Linked DNA regions of Homo sapiens. The protein of the gene in region 1 purifies or fractionates together with the protein of each later gene. This does not show direct contact. Each region holds a gene or a part of one and is shown in the gene's direction. Other genes may lie near its edges.

Evidence for each region. The genes of interacting proteins can lie anywhere in the genome.
Region 2: the proteins of CPT2 (region 1) and SQOR fractionate together in Homo sapiens (co-fractionation; one large-scale study listed by BioGRID). This does not show direct contact.

The regions. Positions count from the first base shown.
Region 1 is NC_000001.11:53,206,824-53,210,323, forward strand, and holds part of CPT2 (carnitine O-palmitoyltransferase 2, mitochondrial isoform 1 precursor), read left to right. Parts: intron 1-3,191; coding exon 3,192-3,500. UniProt on the Homo sapiens protein: Involved in the intramitochondrial synthesis of acylcarnitines from accumulated acyl-CoA metabolites.
Region 2 is NC_000015.10:45,689,405-45,691,781, forward strand, and holds the end of SQOR (sulfide:quinone oxidoreductase, mitochondrial), read left to right. Parts: intron 1-1,568; coding exon 1,569-1,626; 3' UTR 1,627-1,877; downstream 1,878-2,377. UniProt on the Homo sapiens protein: Catalyzes the oxidation of hydrogen sulfide with the help of a quinone, such as ubiquinone-10, giving rise to thiosulfate and ultimately to sulfane (molecular sulfur) atoms.

The DNA.
Region 1 (3,500 bases):
GCTGGAATGAGTTAAGACTCTGGGGCACTGTTGGGAAGACATGGTTGTGTTTTGAAATGTTAGAAGTACATGAAATTTGGGAGAGGCCAGGGCAGAATGATGTGGTTTGGCTCTGTGTCTCCAACCAAATCTGATCTTGAATTGTAATAATCCCCAAGTGTCAAGGGAGGGACCTAGTGGGAGGTGATTGGATCATGGGGTAGTTTCCCCCATGCTTTTCTTGTGATAGTGAGTTCTCATGAGATCTGATGGTTTAAAAGTGTTTGGCAGTTCCTACTCCTTGCTTGTTCTCTCTCCTGCTGCTGTGTAAGATGTGCCTTGCTTCCCCTTTGCCTTCCACCATGATTGTAAGTTTCCTAAGGCCTTCCCAGCCATGCGGAACTAAGTCAGTTAAGCTTCTCTTCTTTATAAATTATCCAGTCTCAGGTAGTTCTTTATAGCAGTGTGAAAACAGACTAATACAGTGATCCAGCTAAACTGCTTCCCTGGGTTGCCCCTAATGGTAGTGTAGTTGGGTTAGCTTCCCTAGGGAGGCTTTTCCAGTAAACTGCCAAAAGGTTGCTAGTGTTGTAGAAGGCAGGGTAAGTAAGGGAAGAAGGTTTGAGATCTCAACTGTGATTCAGGTCTCCCAGTTTTATTTTATTTATTTATTTTTTGAGACAGAGTCTCATTTTGTCACCCAGGCTGGAGTGCAGTGGTGCGATCTCAGCTCACTGCAACCTCAGCCTCCTGGGTTCAAGTGATTCTCCTGCCTCAGCCTTCTGAGTAGCTGGGACTACAGGCACGTGCCACGACACCTGGCTAATTTTTTGTATTTTTAGCGGAGACGGTGTTTCACCATGTTAGCCAGGATGGTCTTGATCTCCTGACCTCATGATACACCCACCTCGCCCTCCCAAATTGCTGGGATTACCAGCATAAGCCACTGCACCCAGCCCCCAGTTTTATTATCTCCAGAGAGTAAAACTTAAGTCTTCTACAGGAGTGAGGAGGGAATCTCAGGTTGTGGTAGTGGTGATATAATTGAATAGTCCTTCAACCAGATGTATCTAGGTTGCCAATTACTGAGCCCTCTGGGGGTTCTGCTGTGCAAATCATATGATTTCTTGGCTTTCTCTCCTGCCAATTTAGGATTGGCTTTCTTGAGTCTGCTTTAGTCATTACCAGTTGCATAAGTGCTTTCCAGCTTCCAGTATTTGTTTTCTCGTCTCCCATTCTCTTGGCCTGACTGGTTTATGTCTCTTTGAAATTCTTTTGCTAAAGGGGGGTCAGAGGCATGAATTTATGTCTTCTTTCATCAAATATATCTTATCCACCAGTACTTTTCTCTCACCATTTTAGTGCATTGCGTTATGTTTTAATTATTTGCCTCCTTCACCAGAGTTTTTCAGAATCAAAGACCATGTCCTATTCCTCTCTAAATCCCCTGGACCAAGGCCTGGCACAGCACTGATTCTCAAGGGATGGAATGAGTGGATGGACCAACAAATGAGTAACAGAGAAATCTGCATCTATTAATCCTTTTCCCAGTGCTATACATATGAACATTATTTGCCTGAATGATAGTCCTTATTTATAGAGTTTATTCATGTTTACTAATCCCAGCAGGAACTTTCCCTGACATATTTTCTGATAAAATATTGCTTCTGGAATTTTTACAGGTAAAACATCTATAGGAACTCAGAGGGCTAGTCTGAGTGATCCATGCACTGATATTTATAATAGCTTTTTTAGTACTTTCTAAACAGGGAGTGTACAAATGTACACTGTACATAGAAGGACAATGAAGACGTTCCCCCCTTATCGGGGAGCAATCAAGTATGATTGTTGCCCCTGAAAGGAGATGAAGCAAGAGAAACCTAAAGAGATGGGGTGGGAATTAACTATTCTGTTCCAGCATGAATGCAAGTGGAGTGTTACCATATTTTATTCCTTTAAACCAAGAAAGGAAACAGAAGAGGAAGAAAAAGCAATTAATAAACATTAGGAAAATGCAAACCAAATCTGCAATGCTATACTACTTTACACCTACCAGAATATCTCCACGCCACAAGACATGTAACAAGTGCTGCTGAGGATGTGGAAAAATTGGAACCCTCACAGACAGCTCGTGGGAATGGTGCAGCCACTTTGGAAAACATCCTGGCAGTTCCTCAAAGGTTAAACAGAGACTTACCATGTGATAGTAGTTCCACTCCTAGCTATGTCCATACAAAAACATGTATAAGAATGTTCATAACAACATAATTCTTAATAGCTAGGTGCAGTGGCTCACACCTGTAATCCCAGCACTTTAAGAGGCTGAGGTGAGAGGATTACTTGAGGCCAGGAGCTTGAAACCAGCCTGAGCAACATAATAAGACCCCATCTCTACCAAAAATAAAAAAATTAGCCAGGCTGGTGGTGTGCATCTGTAGTCCTAGCTACTTGGGAGGCTGAGGTGGGAGGATCGCTTGAGCCCAGGGTTCAAGGCTGCAGTGAGCCATGATCATACCACTGCAATCCAGCCTGGATGATAGAAATCCTGTGTCTCTTAAAAAAAAAAAAGGCAATGTAATTCATAATAAAGAGTGGAAACAGTTCAAATGTCCATTACCTGATGAGTGGATAAACAAAATATAGTATATCCATATAATGGAACATTGTTCAGCGCTAAGAAGAAATGAAGAACTTAAATGCTACAACATGGATGAACCTTAAAAACATTATTAGGAGGCCGAGGCGGGTGGATCACCTGAGGTCAGGAGTTTGAGACCAGCCTGCCCAACATGGTGAAACCCTGTCTCTACTAAAAATCCAAAAATTATCTGGGCATGGTGGAGGACGCCTGTAATCCCAGCTACTCAGGAGGCTGAGGCAGGAGAATCGCTTCAATCCGGGAGGCGGAGGTTGCAGTGAGCCGAGATTGCAGCACTGTTCTCCAGCCTGGGCGACAGGAGCGAGCCTCCGTCCCAAAAAAACAAAACAAAAACATTATTGTAAGTGATAGAAGCTAAATGCAAAACACCATATATTGTATGACCCCATTTGTATGTCTTGAATTATTGCAGAGCAAAAACATTCAGGGAATTCTTCTCTCTGGAGGTTGATGCCATTTCCTTTGTCTATGCTTGAATTTTTTTTCTTCTTCAAATTTTATTTTTAGGGACAGCATTAACATTTTATGTTATTTTTTTCTTTTTATTTTTTAGGACCCTGGTTTGATATGTACCTATCTGCTCGAGACTCCGTTGTTCTGAACTTTAATCCATTTATGGCTTTCAATCCTGACCCAAAATCTGAGTATAATGACCAGCTCACCCGGGCAACCAACATGACTGTTTCTGCCATCCGGTTTCTGAAGACACTCCGGGCTGGCCTTCTGGAGCCAGAAGTGTTCCACTTGAACCCTGCAAAAAGTGACACTATCACCTTCAAGAGACTCATACGCTTTGTGCCTTCCTCTCTGTCCTGGTATGGGGCCTACCTGGTCAATGCGTATCCCCTGGATATGTCCCAGT
Region 2 (2,377 bases), on another chromosome or scaffold:
TCTGCTACCTTACTTTTTTTTTTTTTTTTTTGAGACAGAGTCTTGCTCTGTTGCCCAGGTTGGAGTGCAGTGGCACAATCTTGGCTCACTGCAACCTCCACTTCCTGGGTTCATGCAATTTTCCTGCCCCAGCCTCCTGAGTAGCTGGGATTACAGGTGCCTGCCACCACGCCTGGCTAATTTTTATATTTTTAGTAGAGACGGGTCTCTACTAAATGTTGGCCAGGCTGGTCTCAAACTCCCAACCTCAAGTGATCCGCCCGCCTCGGCCTCCCAATGTGTTGGGATTACAGGCATGAGCCACCGCTCCTGGCCCCTTACCTTTGTTTTTATTGTTATGGGAGAAACCAAACAGTGAGTAAGAGCACAGACTTTGGAGTCAGACCTGCATTTGAGTCATACTTCTGCTATTAGCATGGCAGAAGTCATTAGCAGTGTCATTATGGCCATTAGCAGTGTCATGCTATTAGCATGACATACATAGCTGTGTGTCCCAGGGAAAGTTCTGTTTAATTTAATTAAACACTCTTTGTGTTTAAATTTCTCATCTGCAAAATGAAAGTAACATTGCCTACCTCACAAGATGGAGGTTAATGAGATAACACATAAAGAGGCAGGTACATAGTAGGGATTCAATAAGTAAATAGAGTAATAAAAACGAGTAATTCCTCTTCCTCCTTTTTTTTTTTTTTTTGGAGGCAAAGTCTTGCCCTGCCCGTGGTGTGATCTCAGCTCGCTGCAACCTCCACCTCCCGGGTTCAAGCAATTTTCCTGCCTCAGCCTCCCAAGTAGCTGGGATTACAGGAATGCACCACCATGCCCAGCTAATTTTTGTATTTTTAGTAGAGACAGGGTTTTGCCATGTTGGCCAGGCTGGTCTCAAACTCCTGGCCTCAAATGATCCACCTGCCTCAGCCTCCCAAAGTGCTGGGATTACCGGTGTGAGCCACTGCACCCAGCCACTCTTCTGCATTCTAAAAGCTGATGACCTCCTTTGACTTTTCTAAACCCATATGAGAGAGAAATCTGGGTGTCTACATCAGTGGTCCTGAACCAAGAGTGATCTTCCTACCCCTTGCTGCCCCAGGGACATTTGATAATTTCTGGAGACACTTTTTGGTTGTTACAACTGGAGGGGTGCTACTTGCATTTAGTGAGCAGAGGCCAGGGATACTGCTAAACGTCCTATAATGCCAGGTCAGCCCCCAACAGCAAAGAATTATCTGGTCCAACATATCAATAGGGCCAAGATTGCAAAATCCTACAGTTAATTATGAGGTAATGAAAGCAGAAAGAGTAGCAGTTTGCATGTAGTAGAGGCTTTAGACACATTTGCCAAATTGAGTTAGCACATCCAGGCTCACACAGCAAGTCTTTGTCAAAGCTTAGGAATGGAAGTAGGTTGTCCCCTCCTAGTCATGGGATCTCTCCAACTCACTAGACAATCTTGCTTTACGTGCTGATGAACATGCTCTGTGAGCAGCCTGGCTTCCCTTTCAGCATCCTCCTGACTGAAGTCGCCCCATCTCTCTTGCTGCAGGTACATTTTTTTGTGTTATTTCTTACAGGGGTTACTGGGGAGGACCAGCGTTTCTGCGCAAGTTGTTTCATCTAGGTATGAGTTAAGGATGGCTCAGCACTTGCTCATCTTGGATGGCTTCTGGGCCAAAACTGCAGTCACTGAATGACCAAGAGCAGCACGAAGGACTTGGAACCTATCCTTGTAAAGAGTTCCTTGATGGGTAATGGTGACCAAATGCCTCCCTTTTCAGTACCTTTGAACAGCAACCATGTGGGCTACTCATGATGGGCTTGATTCTTTGGGAATAATAAAATGAAATAATACTTTTATTTTCTGAATAAAAGTTTGTCACTGATTGTGTTCTATGAGAAAATTTTATCTTGGCTGATAGGGATGAAAAGTTCCAGCACTTGGGAGAAAAATATGGTGGTGGTGGGCTAGCTTATATGTTATCTACTGTGAGTATTCAGCTGACAGCTGGCATAATTTCACAGAGCCTATTTGGATTCACTGAAAAGGGTCATTCCAGGGACAATATTGTTTCAAACATAGTGGGCAGTAGCCCTGAACATGTGCTGCTTAGAACTCCTGCCGCGGGAGCACTGTGGAGTAAGAGCCCAGCTGCCACCCCTCTTGTTCCACCACCCTGTTTATGCTAAGGCCATACTTTCTTCCAGCCAGAGACTGAACATGGTGGGGTGCCAGTGCTGGCCCATTCCTTGGAATGTGGGACTTCTCTACTGGACAACTTTAGCTCCAGGACCCCCCATCAACCTGGCTGAAACTTCCTTAGAACTGTGCTGCGTCTGAGGTTCTATCCAGTCCTCCTTCCTTCCCCCTCTGTTTTCATACGTG